4 linked regions of the Homo sapiens genome follow. The protein of the gene in region 2 purifies or fractionates together with the protein of the main gene of each other region. This does not show direct contact. Each region holds a gene or a part of one and is shown on either strand. Other genes may lie near its edges.

What was found.
Region 1: the proteins of AMBRA1 (region 2) and NDUFS2 purify together in Homo sapiens (affinity purification with mass spectrometry, with the first as the bait; 2 studies listed by BioGRID). This does not show direct contact.
Region 3: the proteins of AMBRA1 (region 2) and TUBB4A purify together in Homo sapiens (affinity purification with mass spectrometry, with the first as the bait; 2 studies listed by BioGRID). This does not show direct contact.
Region 4: the proteins of AMBRA1 (region 2) and DCAF7 purify together in Homo sapiens (affinity purification with mass spectrometry; 3 studies listed by BioGRID and IntAct, with this or other methods). This does not show direct contact.

Annotation. Positions count from the first base shown.
Region 1 is NC_000001.11:161,205,354-161,212,373, reverse strand, and holds part of NDUFS2 (NADH dehydrogenase [ubiquinone] iron-sulfur protein 2, mitochondrial isoform 1 precursor), read right to left. Parts: intron 5,968-7,020; coding exon 5,777-5,967; intron 3,182-5,776; coding exon 3,061-3,181; intron 2,892-3,060; coding exon 2,779-2,891; intron 2,518-2,778; coding exon 2,443-2,517; intron 2,264-2,442; coding exon 2,186-2,263; intron 2,071-2,185; coding exon 1,985-2,070; intron 1,784-1,984; coding exon 1,664-1,783; intron 24-1,663; coding exon 1-23. UniProt on the Homo sapiens protein: Core subunit of the mitochondrial membrane respiratory chain NADH dehydrogenase (Complex I) which catalyzes electron transfer from NADH through the respiratory chain, using ubiquinone as an electron acceptor. Essential for the catalytic activity of complex I.
Region 2 is NC_000011.10:46,591,022-46,598,736, reverse strand, and holds the start of AMBRA1 (activating molecule in BECN1-regulated autophagy protein 1), read left to right. Parts: upstream 1-4,713; 5' UTR 4,714-4,909; intron 4,910-7,372; exon of another isoform or gene 7,373-7,612; intron 7,613-7,715. UniProt on the Homo sapiens protein: Substrate-recognition component of a DCX (DDB1-CUL4-X-box) E3 ubiquitin-protein ligase complex involved in cell cycle control and autophagy.
Region 3 is NC_000019.10:6,499,302-6,507,068, forward strand, and holds the start of TUBB4A (tubulin beta-4A chain), read right to left. Parts: upstream 2,912-7,767; coding exon 2,855-2,911; intron 2,323-2,854; coding exon 2,214-2,322; intron 2,097-2,213; coding exon 1,986-2,096; intron 1-1,985. UniProt on the Homo sapiens protein: Tubulin is the major constituent of microtubules, a cylinder consisting of laterally associated linear protofilaments composed of alpha- and beta-tubulin heterodimers.
Region 4 is NC_000017.11:63,553,475-63,560,494, reverse strand, and holds part of DCAF7 (DDB1- and CUL4-associated factor 7), read right to left. Parts: intron 1-7,020. UniProt on the Homo sapiens protein: Involved in craniofacial development. Acts upstream of the EDN1 pathway and is required for formation of the upper jaw equivalent, the palatoquadrate. The activity required for EDN1 pathway function differs between the first and second arches.

The sequences.
Region 1 (7,020 bases), on a different chromosome or scaffold from region 2:
TCTCCTCCACCCGGCACAGGTACCTCAAGAAGATGAGACAGAGCAAGAGAAGAACAGTCAGAGGAGCAGGTATGGGGCTAGGAAGGATGCCCTTTGGCCAACCTCAAAAGGGTTAGGTCAACTCTCCCCACTCTTTTCTCCAAGTACAGCATCTCTGCTTGGCTTGGCCACCCATATAAACCCTGTAGTCTTTTTTTTTTTTTCTGAAACAGGGTTTCACAGCTCACTGCAGCCTCGAACTCTGGGGCTCAAGTGATCCTCCCATCTCGGTCTCCAAAGTAGCTTGGATTACAGGCGTGCACCACCACATCCGAATATTTTTTGTAGAGACGAGGTTTCACTTTGCTGCCCAGGCTGATCTCCAACTCCTGAGCTCAAGCGACTGCCTGCTTTGGTCTCCCAAAGTGCTAGGATTATAGGCATGAGCCACCAACCCCAGCCCCCTGTAATCGTTTGCTTCTACTCTTGGGTGCTTCCCCAAACCCTCTCCTTATTTTCTCAGAACATGGCCTGTAGTATTTATTTCTTTAATTACCTCCTTAAGCACTTTTTGGACCACAGGATGGGTGAGAGTCAAATGGACAAACAAAAATAACAGCAGTAGCTACCAGGTTCAAAAAATAAAACAAACAAAAATAAAAAAAACAATACACAGTAACAAATCTGACTCAGGGTGAGAAAACAGGAGGAGAATTTGTTTTTGGTTTTCGTTTTTTGTTTTTTTGAGACAGAGTCTCGCTCTGTCGCCCAGGCTGGAATGCAGTGGCTCCATCTCAGCTCACTGCATCCTTCACCTCCTAGATTCAAGCAACTCTCCTTCCTCAGCCTCCCAAGTAGCTGGACTTACAGGCATGTACCACCACACCCAGCTAATTTTTTGTATTTTTAGTAGAGATGGGGTTTCACCATGTTGGCCAGGCTGGTCTTGAATTCCTGACCTCAAGTGATCCACCCACCTTGGACTCCCAAAATGCTGGGATTACACACATGAGCCACTGTGCCTGGCCCAGGAGGAGAATCTGAAGCTTAGGATCTACTAGAAAGAACACTGGATCAGGAGGATTCTAGTCTCGACCACTCCTGAAGAATAATCCCAGCTAATCCCTAACTTTTATGCCTCAGCTTTCTCAGCTATAAAATGCAGCCAAAGCTAGCTCCATCTAAGACAAGGATAATGTAAAGATAAAAAGAATGCCATAGGCCGGGTGTGGTGGCTCACGCCTATAATCCCAACAATTTTGGAGGCCGAGGCGGGTAGATCACCTGAGGTCAGGAGCTTGAGACCAGCCTGACCAACATGGAGAAATCCCGTCTCTACTAAAAATACATAAATTAGCTGAGCGTGGTGGCTCATGCCTGTAATCCCAGCTACTCAGGAGGCTGAGGCAGGAGAATCACTTGAACCCAGGAGGCGGAGGTTGCAGTGAGCCGAGATTGCACCATTGCATTCCAACCTGGGCAACAAGAGCAAAACTCCGTCTCAAAAAAGAAAAAAATAAGTAAGATTCCATATATGTGAAAGTGTTTTGAGAGCAACCTCGTCTAACACACACAAGAGCTCCCACAGACACTGAGAAGTAGGGTAAAGAAGGAAGTGGCAAAGAGAAGAGTGAGGCAGGGGAAACTAGCTGGAATATCAGCCAAGAAAGGATTGGGGCCTTACCTATCATAGCAGTCCCCTCGAGAACCAACAGGAACATCAAACTCAACCTGGTCGTAAACATCATAGGGCTGGGTCTTCCGCAGGTCCCACTGGATGCCTGAGCCCCGAAGCATCACTCCACTGTGGAGAGCATAATGGGAATAAGGGCCACTCTCCACAAACTAAGTAAGGAGGCTCCTTCTTCCTTAGCCTCCCTTGTTGATCCTTCACATTCAGGGTATGACTAGGAGGATGCCAACAAGTCTTCAAAGACAAGATATTAGGCTGGAACTCCCCCACTCCCACCCCCACTCCTACGGAGAGAAGTTGTATTCCCCTCACCTAAAACCATAGTTAAGTGCTTCTTCTGCTGTTACAACCCCAATGTCAATTGTCCGATTTCGCCAGATCCTATTGTTGGTCAGCAACTATTGATCAAGAAAACTGGTGTGTTAATACTCTTCCTCACACTCTTCAAATATCTCTGTATTTCTCTAGCCCTTCTTGTGGGGGAGAGATTTTTCCCATTGACTCCTAGCTTACCTCCTCCAACTCATCAAGCCGAAGAGAGAAGTTCTTAGAAAACTGATAAATGTCATCCATAAGCCCAAGGGGTAGGTCCTAGAAGCCAAACGGAAGTGCTACTGAATGTGGCATAGCCTTCACTAAGGAGAGCCCTCTCAGCACCCCCTCCCCCAGCGATACAGGTTTGGAGTTTCCATCATCCAGCACTGCCCTCCAGTGGCCACAGGGAAAATAGGCCTGGGCTGGACATTTGGGGAAGCCGGGGACCTGCTCACCTGGTGCACTCCTCCTGGCCGGATATAAGCAGCATGCATTCGGGCTCCAGACACTCGCTCGTAGAACTCAAACATCTTCATAGAACGTGCTGGGAATTAGTGTCAAAGTCCCAGGCCCCCAGGTCCTATGATGGCCTACTCCCCCACTTTCTGCCTTCTTGTGCCCAACCAACCCCTCATGATATAGTTTCTACAAATATAACCCAAGTTAAACATACCTTCCCCCTCTAAATGTTCTCCCATGTTCTCTCTCTTCTTTTAATCTCCTGTCTCCTTTATACCTTCTCTACTTCCTGCACTTCCTTCCCTATTCCTATCCTTTCCTCCCACTCTTACCTTCTCCCTTTCTTCAAACAGCCAGAAGAAAGGGGTCATGGCCCCAAGGTCCAGGGCATGTGTGGTCACAGCCATGATGTGGTTCAACAAACGTGTGATTTCTCCAAACAGCACTGTGAAGACAAGGAGAAGACAGGATATAGGAGCCAAGCACTGAGGCGGACAGAGAGGTCTGGGCAGAGCCTGGGGTCTGAACACTAAGCTTGGGTTCAACGGGGAAGTGGTGGAAAAGGCACTATGCTATGCTCACAGTGGGCCACAGAAAAAGTTGGGGGGACATACCTCGGATCCACTGTGCCCGAGGAGGAGGCCGGATGTTTAGCAACTTCTCCACAGCTAGAGAATAGGCCTGTTCGTTACACATCATGGACACATAGTCTAGCCGGTCAAAGTATGGAAGGGCCTGGGAAGAGGGAGGAATGTGGGTCACATCTAACAGGCTCAGGAGCCCACAGTCTGGCTGCCTGAAGCCTTGCTCTCAGTCGGCACCAGAAGTTGGTGCTGTATAAGCCTTTCTAGTCTCAGGAGCCCCAACAAGGCAGGTAAAAATATCCCAAAAACCAGTAGTATTCTAGTAAATGTTTAAAAACTGGCTCTCCAAAGTGAGGGAGGACTCTGATTTGTCATGTTTGCCAATTTCCATGGTAAAAATACTCCCACAATGGCCAATTTTAAGTTACCAATATCATGTAACTGAATGCAGCATTGGGAAGAATACCACACCATTATACAGTATTTCCACCATACAGACACATTCAAAGCAAATACCTCAAAGGCAGAGCATAGTAAAATGTGGTAAAATAATGAAGTGATGAGCTTTGAATATTTAATCTTACCTTTGCTTTTAATATAATGTATTAAATCATAAGCTTATATAAATTAATTTCTGACAATGGCTATGTTCAACAACTGGCTCACAAAACTCCTGAAAATTTAACAACTGCACTCTTGCAAGCCCGTATGAGCTAGCTCCAGGATACCACTGTCAAGAGTCCTTGGCCGGGCACGTGGCTCACGCCTGTAATCCCAACACTTTGGGAGGCCGAGGCGGGTAGATCACCTGAGGTCAGGAGTTTGAGACCAGCCTGACCAACATGGAGAAACCCCTTCTCTACTAAAAATACAAAATTAGCAGGGCGTGGTGGTGCATGCCTGTAATCCCAGCTACTTGGGAGGCTGAGGCAGGAAAATCACTTGAACCCAGGAAGCAGAGGTTGCAGTGAGACAAGACTATGCCACTGCATTCTAGCCTAGGCAACAAGAGCAAAACTCCATCTCAAAAAATAATAAAAATTTAAAAAACTGACATACTGGTCAGGCGCGGTGGCTCACACCTGTAATCCCAGCACTTTGGGAGGCCAAGTCAGGGTGGCTCATGAGGTCAGGAGTTTGAGACCAGCCTGGCCAACATGGTGAAACCCCATCTCTACTAAAAATATAGAAATTAGCTGGGCGTGGTGGTGAGTACCTGTAATCCCAGCTATTTGGGAGGCTGAGGAACGAGACTCGCTTGAACCTGGGAGGTGGAGTTTGCAGTGAGCCAAGATCACACTATTGCACTCCAGCCTGGGCAACAAGAGTGAAACTCCGTCTCAAAAAAAAAAAAAAAAAAAAAAAAATTAGCCAGGCATGGTGGTGCGTGCCTATAATCCTGGCTACTCTGGGGGCTGAAACAGAATTGCTTAAACTCGGGAGGCAGAGGTTGCAGTGAGCCAAGATCACGCCACTGCACTCCAGCCTGGGCGACAGAGCGAGACTCCGTAGGGAAAAAAACAAAACAAACAAAAAACTTCAGATACTGAAGGAGAAAGGCAATCAGTCTTAAGAGTATCTGGGAGGGTTTTTTTTTTTAATCTTTTTTTTTTTTGAGACACAGTCTTGCTCTGTTGCCCAGGCGCTGGAGTGCAGTAGCACCATCTTGGCTCACTGCAACCTCTGCCTCCCAGGTTCAAGTGATTCTCCTACAGGCGCACACCACCACGTCTGGCTAATTTTTGTATTTTTAGTAGAGATGGGGTTTCACCTTGTTGGCCAGGCTGGTCTCAAACTCCTGACCTCAAGTAATCCACCTGCTTCGACCTCCCAAAGTGCTGGGATTACAGGCGTGAGCCCGGCCAGAGTGAGGTATTTAAGGAAGACAGAGCATCAGGTAGAAATGGTCCTTCCTCCAGAATGCCAAAAAGCCAAGTCCTAGCTGTCTGCTGAACCAGCTTCAGCTTCCAGGAAGAGGGTGGAGCTAAGACGCTACTAGCTGGGACAGCCTGTTCTTATTCTGATGTCACTGTGACGGGGGCTAATGCTACAGGGGTTAACCCATAGACTCCAGGACCAGAAACTGTCATCGCCGAGGCTCTCTTGGGGAATCACATTCTAGTCACTGTTCACCCCGACACTGGGCTGGATCTAAATCCTAATCCTACCATCCTGTTATCAGGACCTTTCTTCATGACAGTAAGAAAAAAACTTCAGATTCCTATTAGAGATCCAACTCCTTCAAATCTGACCTTCATCATTTGGGTTATACAGTTCTCCTAAAAATGGCAAACTGTCATAAACCCTCTCTGAGTTGCTGTGACTCATTGAATGTTTTGAAAACAAACGTAGACAGCTGGAAGATACAAGAATCAGCTGTTAAACTTAGCGAGCTAATGTCTTTTCTCTTTCCCTGCCCCTAGGGACACTGGCTTTGACGCACTAGTCTAACGTAAGAGCAGGGAAACTGAGGCACTCAAGTAATGGCAAAGGGGCCTGCCAAAAAGTCAGCCAGAGAAAAGCTGAGTATAGCTCCAGCTTCAAAGCACTGCTGCTAAATAAACCAAATCCTAATGACTCAAGCATCCCCTGCCACTTCCCTCCATCCACCCAACCAAGAGTAATCTCAACGGGTTACTCCTCTCAACACCTTCCTCCCCTCACGTTTTAAGGGCAGCAAACTGGCAAAGCCCCAGGCTAAAGCAACCCCAGATCCCGCCAAAAGGCTCCTGTTCACCCCCCACACCTGAAGATAGGTCTTGTATTCAATGAGCTTCTCAGTGCCTCGGTGCAGGAGCCCGATGTGAGGATCACACTTCCGCACCATCTCCCCACTCAATTCCATCACTAGTCGCAGGACACCATGCGCTGCTGGGTGTTGGGGCCCAAAGTTCAGGGTAATGTTCTTCACAATTGTGTCCTTTGGAGGGTCCACATCTGAGAAGTAAGAAATAGTTCAGAGCCACATGGTTATTCCCTTGGGATCCCCCAAAAGATAGCAAGGAGTTAGCCTCTCCCTATAGATTTTCTAACTCACCATTCCATACTTTGTTAATTTCCTAATCTCCACTATAACCAGGAAGAGGACTCTTAGATGGGGAAAAGGAAGATCTAAACTTTCTGATGACAGACATCATGAATCTCACTCTATGTCTCCTAGAATACCTTTTTTTTTTTCATGGTTCATAGTCAGTGTGCATAGAATATCTTTTTAATAATACATAACACTTATATAGCTTTATTATGTGCCAGGCACTACCTTAGGCACTTTAATTGATTTAATTCTTACAACAACTGTTATGAGTAATAGGTACTATCGTTATCCCCATTTCATTGGATAAACTGAGGCCATGGAGCTTAAATGACTTTTCCAGGATCATAAAACTAGTAAGTGGCAGAACCAGGATTTTAACCCAGCCTGTTTAGCTCCAGGATCCAAACATCTTAACTACTATGATATACTGTCCTCCAAATGTATCCAATGAATGGCCAACCAGTCAGGAAATGGTATACCTAATGCTTACTCGCACTAAATGAACTTTTACCCTCAAGAAGATTACCTTTTTTTTTTTTTTTTGAGACAGAGTCTCACTCTGCACCCAGGCTGGAGTGCAGCAGCACCATCTCGGCTCACTGCAATGTCTGCCTGCCAGGTTCAAGCAATTCTCCTGTGTCAGCCTCCAGAGTAGCTGGGACTACAGGCGCACACCACCATGCCCACCTAATCTGAAGCTTACATTTTAATTTGCGAAAGAAGTACATGTGAAAAACTAGGAACAGAGGCCAAATTTGTAAGTAACCAAGAAAGTGCCTTAGCCATTAAGTTTTTAAAAGAAGGAAAGAACACTGCAAAGACTTCATGTAGGTAGGATCTGAGCTCAAATATAGGAAATGATTTAGATAGCTAGAAGGGAGAAGAAGCATTCCAGGCTATGAAATCAACATGGGCCAAATCTTAGAAACAAGGAAGTAAACATCCATGGAACTCTT
Region 2 (7,715 bases):
CTTTTTTTTTAACATGACTACAGGCTGGGCACAGTGGCTCACGCCTGTAATCCCAGCACTTTGGGAGGCCGAGGTAGGCAGATCACAAGGTCAAGAGATCGAGACCATCCTGGCCAACATGGTGAAACCCCGTCTCTACTAAAAGTACAAAAATTAGCTGGGCATGGTGGCGGGCGCCTGTCATCCCAGTTACTAGGGAGGCTGAGGCAGGAGAATCACTTAAACCTGGGAGGCAGAGATTGCAGTGAGCTGAGATCCTGTCATTGCAACTCCAGCAACAAGAGCAAAACTCCAAAAAAAAAAAAAGAGAAAAAAAAATGACTACAACTGAAGGCCTCTTGTGATTGTAAAGTAGAAGAAATTAGATCTCTGGATACTGAACAGGAGAAAGGAGATTAGACTTTGAAATCATAAATTAGCAAATTTCAAAAAGGGGCCTCCCTGTTTGCCCAGCAAAACATTAAGGATCTATTATTCTGTTGACATGTTAACTTTCTCTAATCTTTATGCTGTCTTTTACAGATGGGCTGATTTCTTTGTCATTCTAGAGCCTTAAAATATTCATACATTTTGATCTATTGATAAATTTCATCACTGGAGATTTATCTTATAGAAATAATTCCAAAGAAGGGAGAGCCTTCTATCATTCTACGGCTAGCAGTTCCCTGCTGTTCTGGGCTCTCTCTCCTTCCCTGGGCTGCTCCTACGTCACTATACTACTACCTTTACCATTCCATCATCAAGTGTATACATTACCCCACAGCACAAAAAGAACCGGCTAGAAAAGAACAGAACAGAATTGCAATGGCAGAATTGACAACTGGCTTACCATTTCAGCTGTTCAAGGCCTGACTGGTCTTCCTGCACTTCCTAGTAAGATGACTCACGGTACCATTACAGAATTATCTCACGCTAGGGTCAAACCTGATTTCTACCACCGAGTGTGTGGTAGAGGCATGTTTCTCAGAACCCAGAGCCAAGATAAGGAACAGTCTCCAATTCCCTGTTCTCTCCCCTCCCTCCTTCACCCTTCATTCCAGGCAAGTCTCCTAGGCAAGTGTGTCCCATCCTCATCCTCTTTTTTTTTTTTTTTTTTTTTTGAGGCAGGGTTTCACTGTCTCTGTTGCCCAGACTGGAGTACAGTGGTGTGATCATGACACACTGCAGACTCGACCTCCTGGGCTCAGGTGAGCCTCCTGCCCCAGCCTCCTGAACATCTGGGATTGCCAGTGTATGCCACCACTCCCTGCTAATTAAAAAAATTTTTTTGTTTTTTAGAGACAGGTTCTCACTATGTTGCCCAGGCTGGTCTCAAACTCCTGGACTTAACCTATCCTCCCGCCCTGGACTTCCAAAGTGCTGAGAGTACAGGTGTGAGCTGCCACACCTGACCTCTTGTTGGTTTAGTCTTTCCAAAGTTTTTTCCATGTGATTGACAGGGGCAAGGTCCATGCTTAAGAGTGAACTGTCCCAGATTTCCCATGGCTGTCACAGTTTTAACACTCAAAGTCCCATGTTCAGGGAAACTCCTCAGTCCTGGGCAAAACTAAGACTGGTTATCCTACTTCAGGGAAGCACCATCCTACCTCAGGGGAGTGGCTCCATGAGGAGAGTCCTACCAGAATTCAGTGATCAACAGTAAACACCATAATGAGTTCTTGAGTCTTAACATCAATATGAGGAACATCAGGGGTACAGCCCAGGATGATCTTCACTTCTGCTGGCCTTGTTTCTTTTTTACAGTTTTTCCTCTAGTGTGAGGAGATTCCCGCAAGGTTGATGGTTTCAACTCCTGATCTCTTGTGATCCACTCTTCAGTCTAAATAAACATTTCCATAAGAACATGCAGTAGTTTGCTGTCAAACTGAAGCTTAAATCCATATATATACATACATATTTGAAAAGAACAGTTCTCTAAAGGAAATTTATCTGTAAAGGTGCAACTCTGCCCATAGAATAAGCCACCCTTTCCATGGTCTCACAAAGCAGTCTAGACTCAGCGTTGCAAATATTTTCATTTTCAGATGATGATTTTAGATAAATCTTTGCCGAACTTTCAGGTGTTTTACTCAAAAGTCTCCAGCTTTTGAAAAAAGGAAAATGTCTAGAGCAGTGAAATTAGTTTTTTTTACTGCAATCAAGGTTTCAAAACAATGTAGTTGGCCGGGCGCAGTGGCTCAAGCCTGTAATCCCAGGACTTCGGGAAGCCGAGGTGGGTGGATCACGAGGTCAGGAGATCGAGACCATCCTGGCTAACACGGTGAAACCCCGTCTCTACTAAAAATACAAAAAAATTAGCCGGGCGTGGCCGGGCGCAGTGGCTCACCCCTGTAATCCCAGCACTTTGGGAGGCCGAGGCGGGCGGATCACAAGGTCAGAAGATCGAGACCACGGTGAAACCCCATCCCTACTAAAAATACAAAAAATTAACTGGGCGTGGTGGCGGACGCCTGTAGTCCCAGCTACTCGGGAGGCTGAGGCGGGAGAATGGCGTGAACCCGGGAGGCGGAGCTTGCAGTGAGTCGAGATCATGCCACTGCACTCCAGCCTGGGTGACAGAGCGAGAATCCTCAAAAAAAAAAAAAGCCGGGCGTGGTGGCGGGCGCATGTAGTCCCAGCTACTCGGGAGGCTGAGGCGGGAGAATGGCGTGAACACAGGAGCCAGAGGTTGCAGTGAGCCAAGATCGCTCCACTGCACTCCAGCCTGGGCGACAGAGCGAGAGTCCGTCTCAAAAAACAAAGAAACAAAAACAATGTAGTTATCTGAGTAAAATTTGAATGAGGGCTATAGCTATGCTCCACAAGCCTCTCCAAGAAGGAGAGTTTTCTTTCTTTCTTTTTTTTTTTTTTTGTAGTCCCGAGTAGCTGGGACTACAGGCTCCTGCCACCACGCTTGGCTAATTTTTTGTATTTTTAGTAGAGACGGGGTTCACCGCATTAGCCAGGATGGTCTCAATCTCCTGACCTCATGAACCGCCCGCCTCGGCCTCCCAAAGTGCTGGGATTACAGGCGTGAGCCACCGCGCCCGGCCTGGGCAGTATTTTCAAAGACTTAGAGGAGATTTTTGTAAAGTGCCAATACATTATTTAAAAAAGGCTAATACTGTAAGGATGTGCTCTTTGAGTTTAATTAAAGTCTTCAAAGGCTGGGACTTTTTTTTTTTTTTTTTTTTTTTTTTTTTTTTTTTTTTTTTTTTTTTTAGACGGAGTCTTGCTGTGTCGCCCAGGCTGGAGTGCAGTGGCACGATCTCTGCTCACTGCAACCTCCGCCTCCTGGGTTCAAGCGATTCTCCTGCCTCAGCCTCCCGAAAAGCTGGGATAACAGGCACCCGCCACCACGACCGGCTAATTTTTGTATTTTTAGTAGAGACGGGGTTTCACCATCTTGACCAGGCTGGTCTCAAACTCCTGACCTCGTGATCCACCTGCCTCGGCCTCCCAAAGTCCTGGGCTTACAGGCGTGAGCCACTGCGCCCGGCATTTAAAAAAAAAAAAATTTAAGATAGGGTCTTGCTCCATAGATCAGGCTGGAGTGCAATGGTGTGATCATGGCTCATCGCAGCCTCCACCTCCCGGGCTCAGGATATCCTTTCATCTTAGCTTCCCGAGTAGCTGGGCCTACAGGCGGGAGCCACCAGGCCCGGCTAACTTTTTGTATTTATTTATTTTTTTTTTATAGAGACTGGAGTCTCACCATGTTGCCCAGGCTGGTCTTGAACTCCAGGGCTCAAAGCAATCCACCAGCCTCGTCTCCTAAAGTGCTGGAATTATGGACGTGAGCCGCTGCGCCCGACAAACTGGGACTATCTTGTTTCCTTTTTACACCCTTCCTCTCTGAGTAGTGGGGAAGGGTGTAAACCTCCCTAGGAGCAGGTAAGGTAGACTATGATTGCTCACAATTGGTAACCATACTTGCAGTGATCTTTGTGATTTATTGAATCACATCTAGGATGTACATATTAATCCATATTTGTGCTGAGCATATTCATTTATCAACTAAGAGACTACAGAAAAAAGCCATTGTTGTGGTGATGAAAATGTCAACACTTTATCAGGTTCTGAACCCAAAGAGACTTTTGCTTATTATGTAAGAAGCACACCTGTGGCTCTAGGCCTTTGGAAGAAAATAAAAGAGAAAAGCAATCCGTGTGCTTTTTTTCCCCCTGCCTTAAGGTCAGGCTACATAATTCTGGGTTTTCCCAGCTTCTCTTGGTCATGCTTTGTGGGGACTAAACTGGAGCTTTTACGTAGACTGTTCATTTTGTTCCTCAGCTTGAATTCTCTCTCGTTTTCTGTCTCTATGATTTTTAATTCCCCTCACTGCTCTGTTAGGAAACTAAGGGTCAAATGAGGTTAACTAATTTGCTCAATTGGGATAAAGAGTGTTGGGAGTCCATAGAACAGTTGGGGGACTATAGTTACACAACAAGTGTTATTGCGCTATGATTTGATCTTCAACACATTCACGAGAAACTCCAGTTCTCTAAAGAACTTTAACAGCCGGCGACCCACAGAAAATGGCAGAAGTGCAGGCTCTTTTTTAACCCGTGGCTTATGATCTGGGTTTGTTTATTTACGCCTCAGACAGGAGCCGGACCTTGAGTAGGAGTTGAGCTGTTTTTCGGCGCTCGGCTGTGGTTCCTTGAACGATTGCTTGGGCGTTCCTCCTTTGATGTCTGGGGCGTTCTTGTATTCGGTGATCTTTTGCGCCGTCTTCTTGCTTGATGTCTCCTGAGCGGCGGCGGCGCCGGGTCGAGGGCTGAGTTGTCCGCGAGGCCCCGCGCTCAAGCCGCCTTCTCCTGCCGGTCGGTAGAACGGACCCCTTCCTTTATTCCTGTCTCCTCTTTCTTTTTCCCTGTGGCTCAGCCCGTTCGCTGGACTGCAAACCGAGCTCCCGTCTGCCTTGCAGGTAGGCCCAGGAGGAGCCTGGGAGGCCCAGCCCGGCATCCTTCCGCCGCGGGGTTGAGAAGACCTTGGCGCCGGCGGGTGGGCAGGCTGGCCGGCCGCCGTGACACTGCCAGAGGAGGGGCTACCGGACTGCGTTGAGGGGCGCGGCCGGAGGGGCAGCCCGGAACCGAGGGAGAAGCCGAAAGGAGGGAGAGTTGCTGGGGCTTCCCGGTGTGGTTCTTTAGGGAGGAGATGTTGGGTCTAGGGCACCCCCAGTGTGTGGCGAAAATGGCTTTCCAGGAACCGATAGAGCTTTGCGCACTTTGACCCTCCTTCCTTTCTCCTTTTCCCCCCACCCCGAAGTCTCCGGGTGTCATGCCTCAATTGCACTGGGGACCCCTACTGAGTCCAGCCTTTGAAGGGACCTTTGAGTAGGTGGAGGCTTATGGAACAAGGCCCTCTGGCTCTTCTGAGCGAAGTGTTATGTTCTCGCCTTTTTCTGGGTGGGTAAACTGAGGCTGATGTCTGGGACGTGACTTCCCCACATATCCCCAACAGATCATTAAATTCACTGTAAGTCACTTTTTGTCGTTTACCAATTCCCTTCCCCCCACTTACCAGTCAAGTTATGAAAACAGTGAGTTATTGTTTGATCGTCTGTGATCCCAATTTTCCTAGGAATATAGACTGTTAGGAATATAGATCCTGTCACAAGAGGCTTCAGAAGTAAAGGAACCATGTGGTTTCTTGGCTGTTTTGCTTTTCAAAGTCTGTATCATTTTAACTAGTGTAGCAATGACAGTTTCTTTTTGTTTCTTGATAACCTTGTTGTCTACTTTGTTTCCTGATAACCTTGTTGTCTACTTTGTTTCCTGATAACCTTGTTGTCTACATTGTTTCCTGGTTGATTTATCCTCCTTCTCCCCAGCCTCTTTGGAAATCTTATAACTATGGTGTTTGTGGTTAGAGGTTAGAGTCTAGTAGAGGATGGTCAAGACTTTGAAGGCAAACGCTTGTCCTGTGAGGGTCTGCTTTCTGGGGAGTATCCAATGGAAACCCAAGGAGTCTGTCTCTCTTTTTTCTTTTTTTTTTTTAAGACAGGCTAGCTCTGTCGCCCAAACTGGAGTGCAGTGGCGCGATCTTGGCTCACTGCAACCTCTGCCTCCCGGGTTCAAGCGATTCCCCTGCCTCAGACTCCCGAGTAGCTGGAAGTACCGGCGCGCGCCACCACACTCGGCTAATTTTTGTATTTGTAGTAAAGACGGGGTTTCATCATGTTGGCCAGGCTGGTCTTGAACTCCTGGCCTCAAGTGATTCGTCCACGTCGGCCTCTCAAAGTGCTGGAATTACAGGCATCCACCGCGCCCGCCCAGTTTTGTTGTATTTGATTAGTAGTTTGGTCACTGCACATACAAAAGCTAAAAAAGGCTGTGTGTAGAAATCATTCAAATATTGAGATATTTAAATGAAAGGTTAACGCTTTGGGAACTCCTTTGTGGTTCCCTTTTCCTTCCCAGCTTGGAAAGTCTGGGGACTAAGTCTGTTATTTTCATCGGATTCAGTACCATGATCCTAATTTGTGTCACTTCATTCTTGGAAAAAAAAAAATTCAGCCTGTCGGGCGCAGTGGCTCACTCCTGTAATCCCAGCACTTTGGGAGGCCAAGGCAGGTGGATCACCTGAGGTCGGAAATTCGAGACCAGCCTGACTAACGTGGAGAAACCTAAAAATTCAAAATTAGCCGGGCGTGGTGGCGCATGCCTGTAATCCCAGCTACTTGGGAGGCTGAGGCAGGAGAATCACTTGAACTCGGGAGGCGGAGGTTGCGGTGAGCCGAGATCACGCCGTTGCACTCCAGCCTAGGCAACAAGAGCGAAACTCCGTCTCAAAAAAAAAAAAAAAAAAAAATCAGTCTTGAGGTCATTCTGGGTTGGATAAGTTTCCAAAGTATGTAGAATCAGTAAGAGAGCGTTTTTTTGTGTGTGTGTTTTTTGAGACGGAGTCTTGCTTTGTCCCCCAGGCTGGAGTGCAGTGGTGCGATCTCGGCTCACTGCAAACTTCTCCGCCTCCCAGGTTCAAGCAATTCTCTGCCTCAGCCTCCTGAGTAGCTGGGATTACAGGCGTCGCCACCACGCCCAGCTAATTTATTGTATTTTTAGTAGAGATGGTGTTTTACCATCTCGGCCAGGCTGGTCTTAAACCCCTGACCTCGTGATCCACCTGCCTTGGCCTCCCAAAGTGCTGGGATTACAGGTATGAGCCACCGCGCCCGGCTAAGAGAGTGGTTTTAAGGGTGCAGAGATTCAGTTCCTAGTCCTTGAGTGGAAACTGTACAAGGCCACATTCTCCCACTATTTTAGTATTCTCATGTGAGTTTTGGAAAGATTACTGTTCCTTTAATTTTTTGTGTGAGGTCAGCAAGATTTAAATGAAGGGCCCTTAATCATAAGCAATTTCCTAGTTACACGACCTCAGTGCTCCCAGAAGGGGATTAATGAAGAGCCACCAGACTATCTTTATGGAGAATCTAGATTGGGAAGTTAAGCTAAGAATGTGCATTTTTGAAAAAGTTTTTATGGTAGAAGAGAATGTATATCAGAGGAAAGAATGTAGAGAAGAAAGCAACATTGTCCACTGGGAATTGATAAGTTCTGCGTAGAATTTAGAGTTATAAGGACTATCTCATTGGCTCCTAATGAATGCTAAATAACAAATGGAAATTGCTGTGAGTGTCATGAAGCAATCTTAGGAATATTTTATTATGTTTCTGCAGGAAATAATTGGCAGAGGCTTAAGTTGAATTGAGGCCAAGAAATTTGGTGGTGTTG
Region 3 (7,767 bases), on a different chromosome or scaffold from region 2:
AAAAAAAAAAAAAAGCGTGGACCTAGTAGTCAGACCCTCTCCTCTGGCTCCTGACAGCCCCAGTGGCTTGCAGTGTGACTTTCTGCAAGTGACCTAACGTCTCTGTGCCTCTGTTTTCTCACCTGTAAAATGGAAGTAAGAGGCGAGTTGCGGAAAAGATTCAGAGAGGCAGGACAGGTCCTGCATTTAGCACGTCTTACATGCTGGGAGTATTGGAGGCGGGTGGAGCCAGGGTGGGGACATGCAGCCAGCTGGAGCCAGGAAAGCTTTCCCGGAAGGATTGTCCCAGGGTGTGGACACCCCACTATCTTCACATATGCTGTTGCCTCCGTCTTAAACATCTTTCCTCCCTTCCATGCCCTTTGGCCAGTCCAAATCCTACTCACATTCTAGACTGCAGATAGTAATGAAAACAACGACAAATGCTTATTTACCTCTTTCTCTGTGTCAGGCATTGTTCTAAACTCTACACATATTCATGACTTTAAGCTTCACAATTTTTTTTTTTTTTTGGAGACGAAGTTTCACTCTTGTTGCCCACGCTGGGGTGCAGTGTCATGATCTTGGCTCACCACAACCTCTGCCGTTCAAGCAATTCTCTTGCCTCAGCCTCCCGAGTAGCTGGGATTACAGGCATGTGCCACCATGCCTGGCTAATTTTTTATTTTTAGTAGAGATGGGGTTTCTCCATGTTAGTCAGGCTGGTCTCAAACTCCCGACCTCAGGTGATCCACCCGCCTCGGCCTCCCAAAGTGCTGGGATTACAGGTGTGAGCCACCGTGCCCACCCTGAGCCTCACAATTCTAATAGCATTTTAGAATCCCTGTTTTATTTGATCTTTTTTAGAGATGGGGTCTCACACCATCGCTCAGGCTGGAGTGCAGTGGCACCATCATAGCTCATGGCAGCCTCAACCTCCCAGGCTCAAGTGATTCTCCTACCTTAGCCTCACGAGTAGCTGTGACTACAGGTGCACACCACCTCACTCAGCTAATTAAAATTTTTTTCTTTTTGTAGAGACAGGGTCTCACCATGGTGCCCAGGCTGGTCTCGAACTCCTGACCTCAAGCTCTCTTCCTGACTCAGCCTCCCAAAGTCCTGGGTTTATAGGCATGAACCACCATGCCCAGTGAAATCCCTGTTTTAAAGACGAGGAGGCCGGGCAAGGTGGCTCATGCTTGTAATCCAGCACTTTGGGAGCTGAGTTGGGTGGATCGTTTGAGTCCCGGAGTTTGAGACCAGCATGGGCAACATAGAGAGACCCACCTCTCTACAAAGAAAACTAAAAAATTAGCTGGGTGTGGTGGTGCATGCCTGTAGGTCCAGCTACTTGGGAGACTGAGGCAAGAGGATCACGTGTGCCCAGAGGTGGAGGTGACAGTGAGCCGTGATCATGCCACTGCACTCTAGCCTGGGTGACAGCAGGACAGACAGACCCTGTCTGAAAAAAAAAAAAAAAAGAGGATTTTTGAGGCCCAGAAAGGCTGAGGAGCCCATCCTAAGTTATCCATCTGAATCAACCCCTGGCAGAGCTTTACTTATTTATCTCCTTTGTGGCCTATCACCTTCTACCAGAATGGGAGCTGCACTGGGGCAGAGAGGGAGCTCCGGCTGTTTGATTCTTACCTGGATCTCCAGCTTCTAGAACAGGGCCTGGTATGCAGTGAGTGCTCACTGTTTGTTGAATGCATGAAGTGGCAGAATTGGGATGTGCACCCAGGCAGTCTGGTTCCGGTTCAGACCGTTGAATTAAAATGCCACCTCCTCCAGGAAGACTTCCCTGAATCCTTCTCTGTATCCGCCCTCCTCAGGGCTCTCACAGTGGCCTGAGCATCCCCTCATCACAGCCCTGGATGCAGGGCTGGTGCCTGGTGCCCTGTCCACCCCATCTCTGGTCTGTGGGCCCCGGTGGTGGCTGTTGACTCTGTGGTGTTAGCAGGAATAAGGAGGTTTTCCAGCCTCTGGCTCCCTGCTGGGGGACTCACCAAACACGAAGTTGTCCGGCCGAAAGATCTGACCGAAGGGGCCAGAACGGACAGAGTCCATGGTGCCGGGTTCCAGGTCCACCAGCACCGCTCTGGGGACATAATTTCCTCCTGCAGGGAAACAGATGGAGGGCAGTTCGATGCGTGCCAGGAACCACAGGCGCCCGGTAGCATCCTGTTCCCTCCCAGCTGCCCCTTCCCACCTGGAAGGTGCCTCCTTCGCCCTACCTGTGGCCTCGTTGTAGTACACGTTGATCCTCTCCAGTTGCAGGTCACTGTCCCCATGGTATGTGCCTGTGGGGTCGATGCCATGTTCGTCACTGATAACCTCCCAAAACTAGAGAGAGAGGTGGTCGGAAGAGTTGAGAGAGGGGAAGCCGGTGGCCAAGCCGAGGACTGCCCCCAGCCCCCAACTAGCTCCCTAGCTGCCACCTCTCCCCCAGCAAGGTGAACGGGGGACCTAGAGGCATGGTGTCGGGGCGAGGATGAGGCAGCAAGAAGGAGCGGTGGGGGCGGGGTGCAGCCGAGTCAGCACCCAGCGGGGCCGGCTGGTGCCAGCGCACCCAGGCTGCAGCCCGGGGGAGGCACCGGGGCTCTTTGTGCGTGAGGAGGGGACAGTGGCCCAGCTGTGGGCCCAGCTGTGACAGGCGGACAGAAGGCTGGCTCCCACTCTCCGCAGCCTCTTTGTTCCCAGTCTGGCCCTGCCACCCCCACCCCGCGACCCTTCCCCCAAGGCCCCTGGGGCGCGCTGGCCTCCTGGGGACCTCATTCCTTTCCAAAGACTCCCAGGTTGCGGGGTGCTCCGGGGACCGACCCCGCGGTGCTCCCCGGGGCCGCCACTGCCTCCCCGGGCCCCGTTCCCCGAGCACCTTGGCCCCGATCTGGTTGCCGCACTGGCCGGCCTGCAGGTGCACGATCTCCCGCATGGCGGTGGCGCTGAGGGTGGACGCGGCGGCGGTGGCACGAGCGCGGGGAGCTGCGGCGGCGGCGAGGGTGGAAGATGCGGCGGAGACGGCGGAGCACGGTCCCTGCGCCCCCGGGAGCCGCTATATGAGCGGGCGGGGCACGCGTCACGGCCGGTCACCCTCCCGCTCCGCCCCTTGGTCCCGCCCCGGGATGATGGAGGGGGCTGGGGTGGGGGGAGGTGGTGCAGGGACCTCCCTCCCCAGGGGGCCTCCCAGAGAAGTCCGGGACGCCACGTGCTCCGACCCCTGCCTTGGGGGTGAGGCCCCTTAGGGAGCCACCAGTGCAGTCTCCCCCGTCCCAGCCCCCAGCCAGGCTTGGCCACCCGCAGAAATTGGGCGGAGGAAGGGAGGGGAGCGCCTGGTAAACAGGCATCTGAGAAGTCCTGCCCCTCCCCCTTAGCCTCCACCCTCCCGCCCCAGGCCTTGCCTCAGTTTCTCGGTCCGCAGCCCCCCTTCTCATTCTATTTAGACCTCATTCGCCAGAATCCTTGCAGTAACCGCGAGCCCTCCCAGTGGGCTGGGGGCTCCGGAGCGGCGATCTGGTTTGCGGGTGGGGGGCGGTAGGTTCCTGGAGGGCTTGTCCTGAAGCTGCATAGTAAAACCACGATTTTCCTCCCATGATTGGGTGCAGATGCTGGTGGGCTCCCCTGGTACACCTCTACTGGGCATTGAGCTCGTCCCAGGTGGGGTCACCCCCAGCCTGGCCTAAGGAGGAGAGTGGAGGAGTAAGACAGCTGGGTTCATATTGGGAGGGGGACAGTGAGTCCCCAGGGCTGCCTCGCTTTCCCAAAATAACACCCCTCCTCTCCAGTATTGTAATTTATCTTTATCTATATCTATACCCTTTTTTTTTTTTTTTTGAGACAGAGTTTCGCTCTTGGCGCCCAGGCTGGAGTGCAATGGCCCAATCTCGGCTCACTACAACCTCAGCCTCCCAGGTCCAAGCGATTCTCCTGCCTCAGCCTCCCGAGTAGCTGGGATTACAGGCATGTGCCACCACGCCCGGCTAATTTTTTTGTATTTTTAGTAGAGACAAAGTTTCTCCATGTTGTTCAGGCTGGTCTCAGACTCCTGACCTCAGGCCATCTGCCCACCTCTGCCTCCCAAAGTGCTGGGATTACAGGCGTGAGCCAACGCGCCCGGCCTATATATATATATTTTCGGACAGGGTCTTGCTCTGTCCCTCAGGCTGTAGTGCAGTGGCATGCTCATAGCTCACTGCAGCCTCAATGTCCTGGGCTCAAGCAATCCTCTCACCTCAGCCTCCCAAGTAGCTGGGACTGCAGGTGCATGCCATCACGCCTGGCTAATTTTCAAGATTTTTTGTAGAGATGGGGTCTCGCTATGTTGTCCAGGCTGCTCTCCAACTCCTGAGCTCAAGAGATCCTCCTGCCTCAGCCTCCCAAAGTGCTGGGATTCCAGGCATGAGCCACTGCGCCCAGCTCAGTATTATAATTTATTACCCACCATCTCCCTTGCCTCTGCATTTCCTGTAGCATTAGGTGTATGACCTTGCCCTGGTGCTCCTCTCTGTGTCTGAATTTCACATTTGCAAGTTGGGGTGGTGAGGAAGGCCCACCCTCCAGGGTCTGATTATGCGATGACCCAGTTAACAAGGTGGCGATAGTCTCCCCTCCTGCAGAGTCAACAATAAATTGTATCTTTCTCGAGTCTAAGTATTATCAGAGGCTGGACTGGACTTCCTGTGCTGCCCCTCATGTGAAGGTCAAGCCTCCTGGGGCTGCTTCCTTGGACAGCCTCCAGTCCCGCCCTCCCAGGAAGTCTCCTCCTCGCCTCCCATCCTTGACTTTCCCACTCAAGGACTTTGGTGTATTGCTGGTGGGAGGTGGGGTAAGCCATCTTGGCCATGTGGTTGGGACCTCACATTTGCCATGGCCACTAATTTTTTTTTTTTTTTTTTTTTTTTGACAGAGTCTTGCTCTGTCACCCAGGCTGGAGTGCAGTGGTGCCATCTCGGCTCACTGCAACCTCTGCCTCCTGGGTTCAAGCCATTCTCCTGGCTCAGCCGCCCCAGTAGCTGAGATTACAGGTACGTACCACCATGACCAGCTAATTTTTGTATTTTTAGTAGAGACGGGCTTTCACCATGTTAGCCAGGCTGGTCTCGAACTCCTGACCTCGTGACCTGCCCACCTTGGCCTCCCAAAGTGCTGGGATTACAGGCGCGAGCCACCGCGCCCAGCAAATTCTTTTTTTTTAATTTCTTGCCCTGTCATCCAGGCTGGGGTGCAGTGGCATGGCCATGGCTCACTGCAGCCTCGAACTCCTGGGCTCAAGTGATTCTCCCACCTCAGCCTCCCGAGTAGCTGGGACTACAGGCATGCACCAATATGCCTGGGTAATTTTTGTATTTTTTTGTGGAGATGGGGGTCTTGCTATGTTGCCCAGGCTGGTCTCCAACGCCTGAGCTCAAGCAATCCTCCCACCTCAGCCTCCCAAAGTGCTGGGTTTACACATGTGAGCCATCGTGCCCTGCCCAATGACCACTAAATTTGACCAGTGGCTCTCAACAGCGTGTGTGTGAGAGTGTGTGTGTGTGTGTGTGTGTGTGTGTGTGTGTGTCGGGGGGGCGGGGGAGCGGTGATATTGCCTTCCCAGGGAACACTTGGCAATATCTGAAGACATTTTTGGTTGTCGTACCCAGATGGGGGCGGGGATGTGTGTGTGAGACTATGTGTGCACTACTGGCATCTAGTGGGTGGAGGCCAGAGATGCTGCTGAAAGCCCTTCAGTGCACAGGACGGCCCCACCCCAGAGAATGATGCAGGCCCAATGTCAACAGGGTTGAGGCTGAGAAATCCTGTGTTAATTATTTTGGGAAAAAATTTGTGTTAGCCCCTTCGCTCACACTAGATGCCAGAATAAATTCCAGAGGGGCTAGACCTTATATGGGTTTGGTGGGGCGATCCCTTAGCTTCTGTGACTTATATACTCTCTCTCCCTCAACTCAGTTAGTATGTGTGTATGTATGTTTTTATCTTTTTAGCAAGCTATTTTTTTTTTTGAGATGGAGTTTCGCTCTTCTTGCCCAGGCTGGAGTGCAGTGGTGCAATCTCTGCTCATCTCAACCTCCGCCTCTTGGGTTCAAGCGATTCTCCTGCCTCGGCCTCCCGAGTAGCTGGGATTACAGGCATGCACTGCCACGCCCGGCTAATTTTGTATTTTTAGTAGAGACAGGGTTTCTCCATGTTGGTCAGGCTGGTCTTGAACTCCCGACCTCAGGTGATTCCCCTCACCTTGGCCTCCCAAAGTGCTGAGATTACAGGCGTGAGCCACTGCACCCGGCCGCCATTTTTTTTTTTTTTTTTGAGACAGTTTCACCCTGTTGCACAGGCTGGAGTACAGTGGTGTGATCATATCTCACTGCAGCCTTGACCTCCCAGGCTCTGGTGATCCTCCCACGTCAGCCTCCTGAGTAGCTGGGACTACAGGTGGGCACCACCAGGCCTGGCTAATTTTTGCATTTTTTGTAGAGACAGGGTCTCGCTATGTTGCCCAGGCTGGTCTCAAACTCCTGGGCTCAAGTGGTCCTCCTTCCTGTCAGGCCTCTGAGCCCAAGCTAAGCCATTGTAACCCCTATGACCTGCTCGTATACATCCAGATGGCCTGAAGCAACTGAAGATCCACAAAAAAAGTGAAAATAGCCTTAACTGATGACATTCCACCATTGTGATTTGTTGCGGCCCCACCCTAACTGATCAATGTACTTTGTAATCTCCCCCACCCTTAAGAAGGTTCTTTGTAATTCTCCCCACTCTCAAGAATGTACTTTGTGAGATCCACCCCTGCCCCCAACACATTGCTCCTAACTCCACCGCCTCTCCCAAAACCTATAAGAACCAATGATAATCCCACCACCCTTTGCTGACTCCTTTTTCCCACTCAGCCCGCCTGCACCCAGGTGAAATAAACAGCCTTGTTGCTCACACAAAGCCTGTTTGGTGGCCTCTTCACACGGACACGTGAGACACTGCCTTGGCCTTCCAAGGTGCTGGGATTATAGGTGTGAGCCACTGCGCCTGGCCAGCAAATGATTTTTTATTTACTCGCATAGTATAGCTCCAATAGGAAAGTAATTTGGCTTAGCACTCTTTACAGCTCCAGCACAATCTTGAAGGCATCCTAAGGTTTCTCTGACCCACACCTAACAGTGGCTTTAAAAAACGGCCGGCCGCGGTGGCTCACGCCTGTAATCCCAGCACTTTGGGAGGCCGAGTTGGGCAGATCACGAGGTCAGGAGATCGAGACCATCCTGGCTAACACGGTGAAACCCCATCTCTACTAAAAATACAAAAAAAAAAAAATTAGCTGGGTGTGGTGGTGGGCGCCTGTAGTCCCAGCTACTCAGGAGGCTGAGGCAGGAGAATGGCGTGAACCCAGGAGGCGGAGCTTGCAGTGAGCCGAGATTGCGCCACTGCACTCCAGCCTGGGCGACAGAGTGAGACACCATCTCAAAAAAAAAAAAAAAACAAAAACCCTCCAAAACCCCTCCCCACCTATACTTCTTTTTTTTTTGGAGACGGAGTTTTGCTCTTGTCGTCCAGGCTGGAGTGCAGTGGCACGATCTCAACTCACTGCAACCTCTAACTCCGGGGTTCAAGTGATTCTCCTGCCTCAGCCTCCTGAGTAGCTGAGATTACAGGTGTGCACCACCACCCTCAGCAAATTTTTGTATTATTGGTAGGGACAGGGTTTCACCATGTTGGCCAGGCTGATCGCAAGCTCCTGACCTCAGGTGATCCACTCGCCTCGGCCTCCCAAAGTGTTGGGATTACAGGCGTGAGCCACCACGCCTG
Region 4 (7,020 bases), on a different chromosome or scaffold from region 2:
TTATTTTAAAATATTCCATATCAGTATATGAAAAGCTAGCTCATTCTTTTAACAGCTGCATGGAGGTAGCATAATTTATTCAACAATTTCCCTAATAATAATATTTTCATATTTTTCTTTTACAAATAATGCTAAAATGAATATCCTTGCACTTTAGTCATTTCAACCACATGAGTATAGCTGTAGGATGAATTACCACTAGCGGAACTACCAGGTGGAAAATAATGCCAATTTAAATTTTGATAGCAACTGCATGGGAAAGCTACACATACGTGTATACACACACACACAGTAGATTACCACGGTTTTTTATTTTTCCTAATCTAGCTGAAACTCCATTTTTTTTTTTTCTTATGAGGTTCAGTTCTTCATACGTTCAAGAATCATTTACATATCCTTTCTGGAAACTCTTCCTATCTATTTCTCTTTTTCTACTGGGTGACTGGTCTCCTGGTGATTTGCAGATCTTTATATGCAGTTATTAAGGGATTTGTTCTTTGTCTAGGACATTACATGTATTTTTTCAGTTTGTCACTTATCTTTTGACTTTGGTTTTGTTACAGAGATTTTATTTTTATATAGTTTACTTCTACTTTCATGGCTTTCTCACACCAAGATTCTCCCGTGTTTTACAGTTATATGTTTACATTCTTCCATTTATCTGGAATTCTGGTACAAGGTTTTTTTTTCTTTGAGACGGAGTCCCACTCTGTTGCCCAGGCTGGAGTGCAATGGTGCCATCTCGGCTCACTGCAATCTCTGCCTCCTGGGTTCAAGCGATTCTCCTGCCTCAGCTTCCCGAGTAGCTGGGATTACAGGCACCTGCCACCATGCCCGGCTACTTTTTGCATTTTTAGTAGAGACAGGGTTTCACCATGCTGACCAGACTGGTCTCAAACTCCTGACCTTAGGCGATCCACCCGCCTCAGCCTCCCAAAGTGCTGGGATTACAGGTGTGAGCCACTGCACCCGGCTGGTACAAAGCTTAAGGTAGAGATCCAATTTTTTTTTCTGGTTTCAATACCAATTATTAAAAATATATATATATATATATACACACACATATATATATACGTATATATATACATATATATACATATATATATACATATATATACACATATATATATACATACATATATATACGTATATATATGTATGTATATATATATACATATATATATATATATGGGTCTCACACTGTCACCCGGGCTGGAGTGCAATGATGCAATCTTGGCTCACTGCAACCTCCACCTCCTGGGTTCAAGTGATTCTCCTGCCTCAGCCTCCCAAGTAGCGAGGATTACAGGTGCCCACCACCATGCCTGGCTAATTTTTCGTATTTTTAGTAGAGACGGGCTTTCACTATGTTGGCCAGGCTGGTCTCGAACTCCTGACCTCGTGATCTGCCTGCCCCCGCCTCCCAAAGTGCTGGAATTACAGGCGTGAGCCACTGTGCCTGGCCTTAAAAATATTTTTTCTTCATTTCCTATCACCTTTAGCACAGACTACATTTCTTTTTGTATTCTGAGTTCATTTCTAGACTCTGTTTATACATCAGTTCTTAGAGTATCAAACGATCTTATTTATTATATCTTTGCATTATGTTTTAATATCCATCATTAGTCCACCTTTTCAGAAGTTTTTTGACAATGTGTGCATGTTTGTAAAATTTATCTGTAGAAACAATCAGTTTGCCTGGTTCTAAAAAACCATTATTAAAAATCTGGAGTATTTTTGGCCAGGTATGGTGGCCTATGCCTGTAACCCCAGCACTTTGGGTTGGGCAGGCAGGAGGACTGTTTGAGGTCAGGAGCTCAAGACCAGTCTGAGCAACATAGTGAGACACCTACTGATTAAGCCCAGGAGTTTGAGGTTACAGTGAGTTATACTCACACTACTGCACTCTAGCCTGGGCGACAGAGCGAGACCCTGTCTCCAGAAAAAACAACTGTGGTATTTTAAACAGGGATTACATTAAGTTTAGGGACACTGACATCTTTAGGATACCAAGCTTTACTATACAAGAAAAGAGAATACCTTCCCATTTTTCGAGTATTGTTTTGTGTTCCCCAGCATTATTATTTCCACATAAACCTTACATATGCCTAAGTATATCCCCAAGTATTTATAGCAGCACAATCTACAGTATTTGTACATTCCTAGACATTGCTCCATGGCCTTCTGTCATCAAATGTAGCTAGCCTAATTTCTTTTCCCCTCTTAAAGAGGACTTGATCATTTTGTCTGGGTGTCCAAATAATTCTTTCTTCATCCTTAAAACATAGAAATGTTCCTAGGGATGCCAGGCTCTGTGCCAGGCCTGTAGTCCCAGCACTTTGGGAGACTGAGGTTAGTGGATCACTTGAGCCCACAGTTTGAGACCAGCCTGGGCAACATGGCAAAACCCTGCCTCTACAAGAAATACAAAAATTAGCGGGCGTGGTGGTGTGCACCTGTAGTCTCAGCTACTCGGGAGGCAGAGGTGGGACAATCGATTAAGCCTAGGAGGTCAAGAGTGCAGTGAGCTGGGATCATGCCTCTGCACCCAGCCTGGGCAACAGAGTGAGACACTGTCTCAAAACAAAACAAAACACACGAAAAATAAGATAAATTTTTTAAAAAAGAAATTTTCCTAGGAAATGTTTCAGTGCCAACTGTTCAGTGCCAATTTTTCTTATCACTTCATGCCAATTTGAACTTATCACTTCAAATCTTTGGCAAGTTCAAATCATGCCAATTTGAACTTATCACTTCAAATCTTTACTTCTAAGTTCTTCTTTAACCATATATTTGAGTTTGTTTCATTTCTTTGGTCCTCTTCTTGAGGGACACCAATTATACTTACGTCAGATCTCTTTTACTTTCTGCATCTATTATGTTCTCATTGTTTTCTTCAGTTTCATTTTTCAATCTGTCCTCCCTAACCTTTACTGTTTTCAGCACTGTGTGTTCATCTTTATTCTGTTTCTTTCTTTCTTTTTTTTTTTGACAGTCTCACTTCATCACCCAGGCTGGAGTACAGTGACATGATCTCGGCTCACTGCAACCTCCTCTTCCCAGGTTCAAGTAAGTCTCCTGCCTCAGTGTCCCAAGTAGCTGGGATTACAGGAGTGAACCACTGTGCCCAGCCTTTATTCTGTTTCCAATGTGGCTTTTAATCCTGTGATAATTTTAGTTTTCTCTTCCACTACTTTCCTGTGTGCTCTGCCAGCTGATGTTATATTTTCTCTTTGCCATGCCTTATTTTACCCAATCCTCTATATCTCTGCTTGAAGTTCTGTATTTTCTTAAGTTCTTTGAACTCACAGTGGTAGGACTGACAATTATTTTTCAACCAAGCTAAAGACATCTTTTTAGTATGGGTACTTTATCTGCCACTTATTTTCCATTTCCCCCCATCCTTTCTAATAGCATCTTTCTACAGCTATTGTGCTGATTCCATTTGTTTTGTTTTTTTGGTTTTGAGATGGCGGTCTCGCTCTGTCACCCCAGCGGGAGTTCAGTGGCAAGATCTTGGCTCACTGCAGCCTTGACCTCCTGGGCTCAAGTGATCCTTCCATCTCAGCCTCCTGAGTAGCTGGGACTACAGGTGCATGCTACCACTCCCAGCTAATTTGTTTTTTCTTTTGAGATGGAGTTTCACTCTGTCACCCAGGCTGGTGCAGTGGCACAATCTTGGCTCACCACACCTCCGCCTCCCAGGTTCAAGTGATTCTCCTGCCTCAGCCTCCCAAGTAGCTTGGATTACAGGCACGCACCACCACATCTGGCTAATTTTTATATTTTTAGTAGAGCCGGGGTTTCACCATGTTGGTCAGGCTGGTCTCAAACTCCTGACCTCGTGATCCGCCAGCCTCAGCCTCCCAAAGTGCTGGGATTACAGGCATGAGCCACTGCGCCCGGCCCTGATTTATTTTTTCTTTTTGAAACAGTCTTGCTCTGTTGCCTAGGCTGGAGTGCAGTGGCACAATCTCCGTTCACTGCAACTTCTGCCTCCCAGGTTCAAACTATTCTCCTGCCTCAGCCTCCCAAGTAGCTAGGATTACAGGCATGTGCCACCATGTCTGGCTAATTTTGTATTTTTAGTAGAGACAGGGTTTCTCCATGTTGGTCAGGCTGGTCTTGAACTCCCGACCTCAGGTGATCTGCCTGCATCCACCTCCCAAAGTGCAGGGATTACAGGCATGAGCCACTGCGCCTGGCCATATTCCACTTTAACACACACAGTCCTAGTGCAGAAGAAGAAGGTGAATGTGTGTATGTATATGTAATTTTTAAAATAAGCTCCCAAGTTATCCAAATCAACATAACACTCCAGTCACTGGAACATTTTCCCACAATTGTTAATAAAACAAAAATCGGCTAACACAATATTCTGAGAATATACACTAGCTTTTCCTGGTCTTTTCTATTTGCTTTCTCTTCAAGCCTCTTCCTGACTGATTACCAAGGACCAGTGTCTGCAGGTACCCAAGGTCCTGCCCTATTAAACTTTAAGATGAATTCTGGCACAGCACACCTTTGGCTCGTGGCTCAGAGGCTGACCAGAGAGCTCTGGCAGCGAGAGCTTTGGCAGCAAGTCCTTAGGCAAGCCAGGCTACCTACAGAGCATAGATTCACTCCTTGTTCAAGTGACAGCATCTCCAATAAGTCTATGTGAACAAGATTAGGACAAAAAGCAATAAAGTAGCATTTTTTTTTAAAGCATTATCACTTTTATCCAGTGGTCACAACAGGGAATGAGTCCTCTCACTGTCTAGAAAAAGGAGGAAGTTAAAACCAGAAGAGTTTTATGTCTTAAATTCCCCTGCTGACAGTCTTGACAGGGACTCGTGGAACACTGCGACATTCTAAATATCTATCAAAAGTACTGATGTGTACCAAAACACATTGTGCCTAAAACACATGAGTATGTGTTCAATACAGACCGGCTAAATTAATGAGCAAATGAATGATAATCCTGAAGGGCTACCGCAAATACCAAGATGAAAAATTAAATACCGGAGTCGAAATAATTATGCATCAAACATATAAAGTAATTGTATTAAAAACCTCAGAGGAATCAACACAGGCTGGTGAGGTGAGTACCCATCCCAGTGTTTCAAGTACAAGGTGGTCATGCCACCCAGACTCACTACTAGGATTCTCCAAAAAGCATCAGATATACCTACAGTCTCTCCTCAGAACCTCAAAAATACTCTCTGGATGCCAAATCTTAGAGCACAAGTAGTCAGTTAAATACTGGGGCAAACTAAATCCCAATCACACTGCCATCTTTATCAAAACCAACCCTGAAACATGCACTTAAGTGGAACAGAAGCCCAGGAACTGCTACCCAGCTTTTCCCAATAAAAGAGGGGAAATAACACCTGGGCCTAAAGACCAAACATATTGTCAAAACACAGGAGAAATGCCAAATTCTTATATCTGACTTACGTAGGTAAGCCAGGTAGAACAAGAGAAAATGGATTTAAACTAGAAAATTACACTACTTGGAGTCTGACTATAAGAATCTGCTAGACTACAAAATGAGTTGGGTTGAAAGAGATAAGGGAATTTTCCCCCCAGAGTCTTTAAAAGGCAGAGAATGAAATAATGACCTTTTCAGCTACCTTTCTGACCTCTTATTCCTGAATCCTTTCTGGAAAATACAAAAGTAAATTTACTAAACAGCCATATAATTCTCTTTGGTTATATTTCAATTACAGGTACAGTAATGATAATAATTAAATAACAGCTAACATCTCTATATGGCTTATTCCACACCGGGTGGCGTTCCTAAGTCCATTACATATATTAACTCATTTAATCTTTGAACAAGGTAGATGTTATTATTTATTGCCCTAATTTTACAGATGATGAAACTGAGACACAGAGGATAACTTGCCCAAGGCAATACAAAACTGGGAAGTGGCAGGACTTAGATAACCCAGGCTAATCACAGAGCTTTTTTCATGGGTGAACTTGGATGGAAGGGCAGAACCAATGTTTAGGAGCATGCAGACACAAAAAGATCACATTCTCGCCTCTGGCCAACAGATGCCAAGGCAGCTCCAGGGCCATGTTCTGAGAGTGCCATCTGGACCACTCAACCACTAGTGTGTCTGTCACCTATCTCCAAGTCTGTTAACTTCAGGGGTGGAGCCCAGGAATGTGCAGCTCCCTCAGGATTCTCACACACTAAAATTTAGAGAACCTGTTGCTCCAACACCAATCTTGCTGTATCCCTCAAGAGACCACAACAAAAGAAGGTAGAAACATAATAACCAATAATGAGGCTGTTTTTTGAGACAGGGTCTGGCTCTGTCGCCCAGGCTGGAGTGCAGTGGCGTGATCTTGGCTCACTATAACCTCTGCCTCCTGAGCTTAAAGCATCCTCCTACCTCAGCTTCCCAAGTAGCTGGTACTACAGGCAGATGCCACCATACCTGGCTAATTTTTTAATGTTTTTGTAGAGTCAGGGTTTCTCCATGTTGCCCAGGTTGGTATCAAACTCCCGGGCTCAAGCGATTCTCCCATCTCAGCCTCCCAAAGTGCTAAGATTACAGGTGTGAGCCACCACGCCCAGCCCTATAATGGGGCTTTTTATTCCAAGTGTAGTTGATAGAATCTGTTTCTTTACTCTGCAACAATTCCCAAATTTATTCACATGAAGGAACACCTGGAAGTCAATTTCTTAAACTGTTGATAGACTTAATTCTATGGATCAACTAGGTACAATTTTACGTTAGGAAAACATGATTATGCTAATGCAAATTTTTAAAAATTACAACCATGTTTTCTTAGTGAATGTCTCCACACTAAAAAGATGACCACTTCTAGCCTTTTTCATCAGTGTTAATTTGCTGTGTCCATTTTACTTTATCCTCTGCTGGTGACCACTATCCATGGCAAGCAGGAACCAATGGTCTAAAAATTCCAACCAATAATTCTAAAGTTCCTCCAAATTATGAAGTCGACCACCTCTTTGGCAGGGTTTCTCACAAACTTAGCCTGAGAATCACTTTAAGGCAGGAT